Linked DNA regions of Homo sapiens: region 2 is linked to region 1. Evidence: fine-mapped expression QTL. A gene starts in region 1. The other region holds a variant in brackets. All regions are shown on one strand. Distances are from middle to middle. Region 1 holds the start of LCAT (lecithin-cholesterol acyltransferase). Region 2 overlaps EDC4 (enhancer of mRNA decapping 4).

The links. PIP is the estimated chance that this variant, and not a neighbour inherited with it, causes the effect. A credible set is the group of variants that fine-mapping cannot tell apart.
Region 2: its variant is the best candidate, but not a certain one, in a credible set for the expression of LCAT in tibial artery (GTEx, PIP 0.85).

What each region holds. Positions count from the first base shown.
Region 1 is chr16:67,941,538-67,946,900 of GRCh38, forward strand. LCAT (lecithin-cholesterol acyltransferase) reads right to left here and starts at 2,583. Exons shown (of 6, transcript NM_000229.2): 1 at 2,411-2,583; 2 at 1,519-1,675; 3 at 1,324-1,439; 4 at 1,134-1,229; 5 at 826-1,050. The coding sequence starts at 2,564. It overlaps SLC12A4 (solute carrier family 12 member 4), which reads right to left. Exons shown (of 24, transcript NM_005072.5): 18 at 4,901-5,096; 19 at 4,634-4,803; 20 at 4,414-4,545; 21 at 4,227-4,334; 22 at 3,832-4,016; 23 at 3,550-3,683; 24 at 1,937-3,394. The coding sequence ends at 3,303. RefSeq lists enhancers at 782-831, 815-1,714.
Region 2 is chr16:67,874,921-67,880,283 of GRCh38, forward strand. EDC4 (enhancer of mRNA decapping 4) reads left to right here. Exons shown (of 29, transcript NM_014329.5): 2 at 1,025-1,181; 3 at 1,568-1,679; 4 at 1,953-2,052; 5 at 2,297-2,486; 6 at 2,589-2,736; 7 at 2,821-2,925; 8 at 3,246-3,355; 9 at 3,440-3,523; 10 at 3,616-3,711; 11 at 3,817-3,919; 12 at 4,037-4,217; 13 at 4,317-4,389; 14 at 4,492-4,583; 15 at 4,667-4,854; 2 more. Among named protein-coding and RNA genes, the nearest start is that of EDC4, 4.6 kb to the left of the region's middle. The variant T/C (reference allele first, on the strand shown) is at 2,694.

The sequences.
Region 1 (5,363 bases):
TTGGGCCAGGGAGATTGAGACTGCGGCTATGATCACGCCACTGCACTCCAGCCTGGGCGACAGAATGACCCTGTCTGAAAAAGAAAAAAAAAAGTAGGCGGGGCTTCCTGAGGACCAGGGTGTGTGGGGATGGTGGGTGAGGCCCAGGATGTGTGGGGATGGTGGGGGCGGTGCTGGCTGTCCTCCCTCGGGCATGTGTCTTTCTGCTCCTTGTGTGGCTTATGCAGCAATGGGGGCCACAGAGTTGTGCTCCAGAAAGGGGGAAACAAGATGGTGTCTGTTTGATGTTTATTGGTGGTGTCTGATGAGCGTTTCTCTTGTCCAGACTGTGTTTCTCTCTCCAGACCAGCTCCCAGGGTACAGGGGGTGGGGAGTAGGTGGTAGCTGTGTCAGTGCTGGGCCCTGGTGCCACTCCCTAGGGAAGAGCAGGTGGGGCCTCGGGGGGTCTGGCCCTAGCTCTGGCAGATCCATCCTCAGTGAAGCACATCCCTGGGCAAAGGCACTCCTGCGAGCAAGTGGAAGGCAGGCAAGGGCTGGGCAGGCAGGCTCTGGGGCTACAAGAACAAACCCTGGGAGCAGATAGCTGGGATTCACTTTCTGTGTTCACTGCCCCTTTGCCATCACTGACACAGACTCTGGAAGGAGCCACCCTAATTGCTCAGGCCAGGGTCACTGCTCTGGGGGCCAGTGACAGCAAGCATGCCAGCCCAGGAGTGGTAGATAGCACCCCTAGAGGCCACTGTGAGCAGGAGCCGCAATGAAGGCAGGCCCAGGATCAGCTTGGTCTCACCCATCGCTGGACCTAAGTGTTCGAGGCCTTCTCACCTGAGGCCAAGACCAGCATGGGCTTGATGGAGCCACCCCAGGGAGCCCCAAGAGAGATGAAGCCATCAATAAAGCGGTCCTTCCAGGCCTGGGGCTGGCGCAGCAGGAAATAGAGCAAGTGTAGACAGCCGAGGCTGTGGCCAATGAGGAAGACAGGCTTCCCATAGGCAGCGTGCATCTCCTCCACCAGCCCTGCGAGCTTGCGGTAGTACTCCTCCTGCTGGCCTGCAGCGGGTGGAAGGGGTCAGGGCAGCTGGGGTCTGGGGCACCTGCCCCACCCCAAGCCGGTCATCCGCAGAGACACTCACCGGGCTCCAGCCGCCAGTCATAGGGGGCGGCGCGCACAGTCTCGTCCCGCACGTAGCCATTGTTGACCAGGTTCTGCACCAGTGTGTGCAGGTACCCTGTGGGGGGACCAGCAGCACCGGGGGCTTGGGCCATGCCTGCTGTGGGCCAGCACCCAGGCCTGGAGCCCCAGCCCTGCCCTCTGACACAAACCTGCCAGCTTGCTGCTGTCCAGGTACTCCACAGAGTAGGTCTTGCCAAAGCCAGGGACGCGGATCTGGACACCAGGGGCGTTGGACACGAGCCCAGAGCTCCGGTTGTAGACAACCCTGCGGGGCGGGGGTGCCACTCAGCAGCCAGTAGCCAAGGGGCAGCGTGTTGGGGCTAGGGTGGAGCACATGGCTGTACCTGGTGTTATCGATCCAGCAGTCTACCCCAAGGGGTAGGAACATGTTGAGATCCAGCCAGATGGTGAAGAAGTCCTCTGTCTTGCGGTAGCACATCCAGTTCACCACATCTGGTTTGTCCAGCTTGGCTTCTAGCTGATTCCCCAGGCAGCCGGGCACTGTGAGCAGCAGCCCTCACTCTGGACTCTGGATTCCCCCCGTGACCCTTACCCCCGTCACCCCAGATGCTGCAGTGACCAGACCCACCCCCCACCTCCCATACCCTCAACCCCCAGGTACAAAGCACACTTACCCTCCCCTGCTTACACCCCCTCTCCCTGCTGTCCCCCCAGTAGCCAAAGCCCAGGCTTCCCTGAGGAAGGGAAGGCGCTGAGGTGCTGAGGCCAAGGCCGCTGACCCCTGCCTCTGCAGAGCAAACACCCAGTCTGGCGCTCCTTTATTGCCAAAGTCCAAGGTGGGAACAGATAGGTCTGGGGGCATGGGGGCTGGGCCTAATAGGGGCCGGGCATGGATGGGCCTCTCCTGCTCACCGATCCTGGGCTGGGCATCTTGTCCTTGGTGGGTGGGGGCCAAGGAAGGAGTGGTGGGGCTTGGCCCAGAGTCTGGTGTGGCTGTGACTGACCACAGCTTGTGATGCCCCAGCCAAGACCTCAGGCACACCCCGTCCCCCACTCCGCCCCCCCTGGGTTAGACAACTGAGAGTCACAGTGTGGTGGGAGAAGGGACGTCATTCCTCTAAGGGACAAGCTTTTGGCCCCTCCCCACACCAGGGCAGGTACTTATGTCGGGGCTTATGCAGGGCAGAAGGGCTTTGGCCAGGTCAGCTGCCAGGGGCTGGGGCCCAGGCTCCCCAGGGTCTGGCGTGGTGCATCAGGGGCCTGGTGGGGGCTTACCGAGGATGACGGGCCGTGTGTGGTTACTGAGCTCAGCCTTGGGCGTGGTGTGCGGGGGGAAGAGCACATTGAGGAGCCAGAAGGGGGCGGCAGGAGGGAGCAGCAGCCCCAGCAGCAGCGTCACCCACTGCCATGGGGAGCCGGGCGGCCCCATTCCAGCCCTGGTGCCTACTGCCAGAGAAAGCGGCACTGGGCTGTCCTTATCTGGTGTGGGAGTGGGAGGGGCCCTAGGGCCAGTGGGAGGGACGGCCTGGCCAGTGGGGGTTGTGGCCAGAGATTGCCGGAAAGGGGCACAGCCTCAGGGAGCCGGCTCTGGGCCTGGGTTCAGTTCCGCCTTCTTCTCTTGGCGCCAGGGGAAACAGAGCCGGGGCAGCAGGAGGCCCAGAACTACACAATGTTTTATTGAAAAAGTCAGGCCTCAGCTCAGCTGTCTCCATTCGGCTCAGCTTGGTGGGGGGCCCTGCCCATAGTAGACTGAGCCAGATCTTCCTGCAGGCAGCTGGGCTGGACTCCCTCCCTGGCTACCCTTCCCTTCGTCTCTGATGGTGACATCCAAACAATAAATATGCAATAAATAGCGCTCCTGGGCTGGGCCGGGCCGGCTGCCTTCAAACCCCACTCGGCCCCTACCAGTCTTCTCTGGCCAGGACAGGCCTACTGGGGTGCTAGATAGTAAAGTCCCCAAACATCCCAGGGTCCCACAAGACCTGGGATCCATCTCCATTTTGAGGCCCAGGCCTGGTTTCCAAGGAGACCTAGCAAAGCTGGGTCCAGGACAGGGCCAGGCAAGCAGGGCTGGCAGGTGGGTGCTGGGAAGAGGCTGTTACCCCAGACCACAGCTTGTTATGTCCTGGCCAAGACCTCGACTCCAGGCCACAAGATGACACTGGGCTCAGGAGTAGATGGTGATGACTTCACGGCCACCACCGCGCACCAACAGCACCCGCTCAAGGCCCTCGGTCAGCACCTCGAGGAACTCCATGTCTGCAGGGCCTCAAGTCAAGGAGGCAACAACAGAATCAACGGGCAACCCGGGCCACCTGGGCCATGCCCACCCAGGGGTGCCCAGGAGAGAAGCCGCTGGCTTGACCTCCCATGCTATCCACCTCCCAACTGCCTGCCTCTCCACAAAGGGATACAGTTCTCGTCGCCCTCACTGTTCCTGGGTGGGCCAGGCATGTTTAGGAGAACCAGGCGGGCGTCGTGGGAGCGCGTGACAATGACTTCATTGAGCTTCACAGCAGTGTGCATGCGCCGCACATTGGATTGGTCCCTACACGTAGTGTAGCCAGTCACAGGTCGCCATGAGCCATCCTGCAAGGAGGGTCCCCACCCCTGGCCCATCTAACACTACTTGTCTGCCCCACCCCACCTCCACCCCTAGATTCCAGTGCCGCTGGGGCTGTTTTTGCTGCACTCACGGCTTAATGTGCACCAGCTCCCGGAAATTGTCAGGGGCATGGCTGGGGTCCCAGGTCTCAGTCATGTACTTGTCCCTGGTCCACGTCATCTGGATCTTGTCAGCCCCCACTGCAGACTCATCTTCCTCGTCCGAGTACAGGCTCTCCAGCCGCAGGGCCGAGTGCCGATCCTTGACCAGCTGGGCCTGAGGACAATTGCAGGAGATAGCCTTGGTCCCATAGGAAAAGGGGGATGGGGCCTGTCTGGCCCAATGTGACCACCTTGCCTCCGGGAAATGAGCACTAGCTTGGGTAGGGCTGCGGTGAGTCATTCTGATTCCTCCGCACCCACCGATGCGGTCTCCAAAGGCCTGACCCTGCCACCCGCCCTGGCGTGAACCACAAAGGGCACTGACTTCTCGCTCCCGCTCAGTCTTGGTCAGTCTCATCTGCCGCAGCATCTGCGACCGCTGCTCCATCATCAGCGTCCGCTCGTAGGTGTATGCAGAGATGTCACTGTTATGCTGGGGACAGGGTTGGCCGTGAGGACCCAGCTGCACGGGACATGGTATCCACGGGGCCAGGGCAGGGCAGAGGGCTCACCATCTCCACCACCTCCACCTCGGCCTCAAGGCGCAGATGGTACAGAAAGACAGCCAGGTCCTTCTTCATCTGGATGCTGTTGTCATCCATCTGGGCCACTGTGAAGATGCGCATCCGGCACTTCCTCCAGACCTGAGGCAAGGGACCAGGTGGGCGGTTTGGTCACAGCTGCTCCTCCAAGGGCCTAGCCCCTCTCATCTGCACCCACCCCCTGGTCTACCTTATGCTGGCGCAGCAGGAAGGGCAGAAGCATGAGCATGCCACCATCGTGCACGATCCACCACACGTCTATGTGGCCCTCCAGGTAGCGCTCGTGGTTGCTGGGGTAGAAGGCGATGTTCTTGGGCACGAGCAGGGCCAGGTGGGCAGCCGTAGTGCAGCGCACGGTGTCTGGGGAGGAGGAGCACGGCTGACCACCAGTCTGTGGCCCTCCGCCCACTGCCACCTCACTTCACCCCTGCCCACCAGGCCCCAGGCCTTCACACACCAATGAAGGTCTTCCAGGCACGGGGGTCCTCGCTCTGTCGCCAGCCGTAGGGCCAGCCCAGCACCACGGAGTTATGCCGCATGCCTCCCAGGCCACAGGACTGGATGAGGTGGGCCAGCCCCTCCCGCACCTTGCTGGCCACCACCACCTGGCAGAAGCCCTTCACCTTCTCAATTTCCATCATGTTCTTGATGGTCTGTGGGGAACACACCCAGGGCCAATGGGAGGCCATCAGCTTCCTGCCTCTGGGCTCCCTCCCAAGGCCCCTCGGGAACAAAACGACTTTTGGGTGGAGGAGGGCCTGGGGGCAACAAGCTGCCTACCCAGAGGCCAAGTTTTCAAGATGGGACTGCTGGCTCCCCCTTGTGCCAGCTCTCAGGTGGCAGCAGTGCTGGCTGCCTGGCTGGCCACCCTGGCCAAGACTGGGCCCTCCCCTCCGTGCCAGCTGCAGTCCAGACCCCTG
Region 2 (5,363 bases), 67 kb before region 1:
CTTATCTCTACTAAAAATATAAAAATTAGGTGAGCTGTAATCCCAGCTACTTGGGAGGCTGATGCAGGAGAATCCCTTGAACCCAGGGGGTAGAGGTTGCCATGAGCCGAGATCGCGCCAAAATAATTCAAAGACTGTTGTGACTGGAAACTTGCTATGTTCTGAATGTGGAGCCCTAGGCTCCTTGCCACCTGGGGATTTTGGAAATGGTGTCTGAGCCTATGAGAGTGTTTGAAACCCAGCCAGTTGCAAAGAACTGAAATGCTGTCTTTCCTTACTCCACACGCTGCCCCATAGTTTCTCTCCTTTTGGTCCAGCTCCTTTATGTCCCTGCCTTCTGTGTTTACTTGCCCAAGATAGCTTCTTCTGAGCCATTTCTGTGTGGGGCAGCCCCTTCCACATCTTACCAGTGCCCTTCCATGCCTTAGGAGCCCATCTTCTCTCCAAACTCTGACACTACATTGGTCTAGGCCTTGATCTCTCTCACCCAGATTCTCAACCATTCTGCATGCTATCTTAGAGTAATCTTCCCACTGGCCAGAACTGACCACATCACCTTCCCTTTTGAAACTCTTTATGGTTCTCATGGCCCACAGGGAGAGTCTAAGTGCCACGGCATCATACCTGATGCCTCTGTAGCTTTGTTTTCACTCCATCCTTCCTGTGTTTGTGTGTTCTGGTCACACTAACTGCTGTATAAAGTCTTTCCTGACCCCTCCTATGCCCTCACTCAGTCCACAGAGTTCTTCTGTAGTGACCCAGACCTGAGTATTCACTGCCCTCAAAGGGTCCTTGATGGCTTGTACCCCTCCCCCAGGTAGAAGAGCCTCATGCTCATCCTTGGTCCTGCCTACATCAGTGTTTATGGAACGAGAGATGAACACAGGGCCCTCCTCCTCATGGACATGCTTTGCTCAGTTGAGTGTTCCTAGAGCACCTCATAGTTCTTGAAGGAAACTCTGAAAGGGGAGAGGCTTGTGGGCAGGTCGAGCAACCTTATCAGAATGACCCTCTTTGTCCCCAGGCCCCAGTGCAGAGAGCCCACGGCCATCCAGTGCCTACAATGGGGACCTCAATGGACTTCTGGTCCCAGACCCGCTCTGCTCAGGTGATAGTACCTCAGCAAACAAGACTGGTCTTCGGACCATGCCACCCATTAACCTGCAAGAGAAGCAGGTCATGTGAGTACCTAGGAGACGACAATAGTGGTGATGGTGTATTTGGGGTGTCTGCTAGCTGAAGGCATGAGATGGGGAGTGAGCGGGGCCAGCAGCCTCTGCTGCTTCCTCTCTAGATGACCTGGGGTGGAGCTTGAGCTTGCACTAGGATGAGAGGCAAGGACAAGCTCAGGGGTTTGGCCTGGATACCTGGTTTAGAATGAAAGTAGGCTCATTCCCAAGGAAGGAGATGAGCAAGCAGAGCTGTGGGTCTGGGGCCAGTGGACCAGGCGAAGCTGACATTGGACTAGATACCTTCCCCAGTCTGGCTATGTCCTCGCTTCCTCCCAACCCTGCCCGCTGAGCCTTTGGGTGAACAAGAGGCAAAGTTTTTGCACTCTTCCCCACAGCTGTCTCTCAGGAGATGATAGCTCCACCTGCATTGGGATTTTGGCCAAGGAGGTGGAGATTGTGGCTAGCAGTGACTCTAGCATTTCAAGCAAGGCCCGGGGAAGCAACAAGGTAGGTACTGGGATGCTGTGGCATATATAATGTACGGGGGCACACCCAGCCTTTCCAGTCTCCCTCATGCTGCCAGTTCCTATGGGGACCACCTTGACACTTTCCCAGTTTCAGGAAGCCAGGGCTGGGTGCCAAGCCTCTGTGGGAGTCTGGCTCCAGGAGGTAACAGTGGGTAGCTGGACTTGCATCTGTGTCCTCTCCCATCCCCAGGGATGTTGGGGGCCACCTAGGCTCTGGGGAAGTTCCATGACTTTTCTCACCCTGGGTTCTCAGGTGAAAATTCAGCCTGTCGCCAAGTATGACTGGGAACAGAAGTACTACTATGGCAACCTGATTGCTGTGTCTAACTCCTTCTTGGCCTATGCCATTCGGGGTGAGTAAAGACAGTGAGGAGGAAGGAATGTTCTGCTGGATGTCCCACAGAGCCAGTTCCAACATCAGGCCACTCAGGCCTTAGGGGTACAATGGAAGGTTTGTCCATGCTGCCTCTTGGGGAGCTGGGTGGGAAAACCAAGCTTGAGACTCTGGTGGTGGCAGGGAGACAGGTGGGGCAGCGCTTCTCTGCTACTGCCTGAGCCTGGATACGTATTCATGGTCCACTGCTCTCCTGATTCCAGCTGCCAACAATGGCTCTGCCATGGTGCGGGTGATCAGCGTCAGCACTTCGGAGCGGACCTTGCTCAAGGGCTTCACAGGCAGTGTGGCTGATCTGGCTTTCGCGCACCTCAACTCTCCACAGCTGGCCTGCCTGGATGAGGCAGGCAACCTGTTCGTGTGGCGCTTGGCTCTGGTTAATGGCAAAATTCAGTATCCATTCCTTCCTGTGGGTGGTGGGACTGAAGAAGGGTGGGCGGAGCTGGGGTGTCACGCCTCTTCATTCATCTATCTAGCCCTTAACACCCTGCTCAGAGAAGAGATCTTGGTCCATATTCGGCAGCCAGAGGGCACGCCACTGAACCACTTTCGCAGGATCATCTGGTGCCCCTTCATCCCTGAGGAGAGCGAAGACTGCTG[T/C]GAGGAGAGCAGCCCAACAGTGGCCCTGCTGCATGAAGACCGGGTGAGGGGGCTGACATGGCGAAGAGGCGCCAGAGAAGCCATAGTGTGGGGTTGGGCTGCACACTCACCTCCCTGTGCCTTCCAGGCTGAGGTGTGGGACCTGGACATGCTCCGCTCCAGCCACAGTACCTGGCCTGTGGATGTTAGCCAGATCAAGCAGGGCTTCATTGTGGTAAAAGGTCATAGCACGGTAAGCCTGTGACTGCCTGCCTCCCCTGCCCTCCCCACTTCCTCATATCCATCTTCTGTTCCCTATATCCACAGCTGCCCGGGCAGCTTTACTAGCATTCTGCCCGTGGGGACTCTGAGCTCAAATTGGCCCTCACCTGTGCAGCTTTCTCCTTATCTAGCAGCACCCTGCAGGTCTGGCCTTCTCTAGGAACCCTGTTCATTTAGTCAGTCACACAAGCATGCCAGTCCCACCGTGAGTCAGCCCAGCTCATTGCCATCCTCACTTGGGAGGGGCTTGTTCTCACCTCTAGTCAGCAAAGCTTTTTGGGTTCTTTCTAGTGCCTCAGTGAAGGAGCCCTCTCTCCTGATGGGACTGTGCTGGCTACTGCGAGCCACGATGGCTATGTCAAGTTCTGGCAGATCTACATTGAGGGGCAAGATGAGCCAAGGTAAGGCAGGGCCTCAGGGACCAGGATCCTCCCGAGGTAGCCCACCCGACCACTCACTCAGGCCCCTCATCTGCCTACCTGCAGGTGTCTGCACGAGTGGAAACCTCATGATGGGCGGCCCCTCTCCTGCCTCCTGTTCTGTGACAACCATAAGAAACAAGACCCTGAGTGAGTGAGTGGGCAGCCTAGTGGGTGGTGGGCTGGACCATGGCTCCCAGCAGGGGCCCCAGCCAGTCACTCACTGCCTTGTTGCCTTGCAGTGTCCCTTTCTGGAGGTTCCTTATTACTGGTGCTGACCAGAACCGAGAGTTAAAGATGTGGTGTACAGTATCCTGGACCTGCCTGCAGACTATTCGGTAAGCAGTGGCTGGAAGGCTGGGGGACTGGGCAGGGGCGGCAGGGTTGGGAATGTAGCTTCCTTCAGTTCTCAGGCTCATTCACTCTGCTTTGTGGCTCTCTAGCTTCTCCCCAGATATCTTCAGCTCAGTGAGTGTGCCCCCTAGCCTCAAGGTTTGCTTGGACCTCTCAGCAGAATACCTGATTCTCAGCGATGTGCAACGGAAGGTAGGCTGCCATGGGGTACCCTGGGCAGAGTTGGGATTATAGAGGAAGGCCGGGGGGCAGGTGGCGCATCACAGCCCTTAGCCTCTGAGCTCAGCTAGGAACGTTCTGCCTGTGCAGGTCCTCTATGTGATGGAGCTGCTGCAAAACCAGGAGGAGGGCCACGCCTGCTTCAGCTCCATCTCGGAGTTCCTGCTCACCCACCCTGTGCTGAGCTTTGGTATCCAGGTTGTGAGTCGCTGCCGGCTACGGCACACTGAGGTGCTGCCTGCCGAAGAGGAAAATGACAGCCTGGGTGCTGGTGAGCTGCCTCAGGGTCAGAGCTATGTGTCCATATATCTAGGGGGTTGTGGAGGCACAGAGAGGGCCAGGGGCTTCATCATCCACACTGTCCTTTCAGATGGTACCCATGGAGCCGGTGCCATGGAGTCTGCGGCCGGTGTGCTCATCAAGCTCTTTTGTGTGCATACTAAGTGAGTGAGTGGGGAGGCCCGCCAGTGTCCTGTCTGTGTCTGTCTCCACTCTACTGACCCTTGCCCTTGGAGCACTTTATTCTCCCCCTTCTTTTCCTGCAGGGCACTGCAAGATGTGCAGATCCGCTTCCAGCCACAGCTGAACCCTGATGTGGTGGCCCCACTGCCCACCCACACTGCCCACGAGGACTTCAGTGAGTAGGGCGTGAGAGGGAGGTAGGGTAAGTTGGACTGACCAGGGTCTGAGATCTAACTCAAGTGGCAACTTGCCCTGCAGCATTTGGAGAGTCTCGGCCCGAACTGGGCTCTGAGGGCCTGGGGTCAGCCGCTCACGGCTCCCAGCCTGACCTCCGACGAATCGTGGAGCTGCCTGCACCTGCCGACTTCCTCAGTCTGAGCAGTGAGACCAAGCCCAAGTTGATGACACCTGACGCCTTCATGACACCTAGCGCCTCCTTGCAGCAGGTACTCTCCCAGGGTAGGGGGACCTGGGAATGCCTCAGCCACAGGCCACAGGTCTTATTTCCTGCATCTCCCCAGATCACTGCCTCTCCCAGCAGCAGCAGCAGCGGTAGCAGCAGCAGCAGCAGCAGTAGCAGCAGCTCCCTTACAGCTGTGTCTGCCATGAGCAGCACCTCAGCTGTGGACCCCTCCTTGACCAGGTGAGGCAAGGGTCAGAGATGGAGGATGGCAGGGGCTGGTACCAGATGATGCCAAGCTCTGGCTGCTGACACCTCAGCCTTCCCCCACCAGGCCACCTGAGGAGCTGACCTTGAGCCCCAAGCTGCAGCTGGATGGCAGCCTGACAATGAGCAGCAGTGGCAGCCTTCAGGCAAGCCCGCGTGGCCTCCTGCCTGGCCTGCTCCCAGCCCCAGCTGACAAACTGACTCCCAAGGGGCCGGGCCAGGTGTGTGACTGGGTGTGTGTGTGAAGTGTGGGGAGCAGGTGGGCAGCAGCAGGGAAGGTGGGTGGTG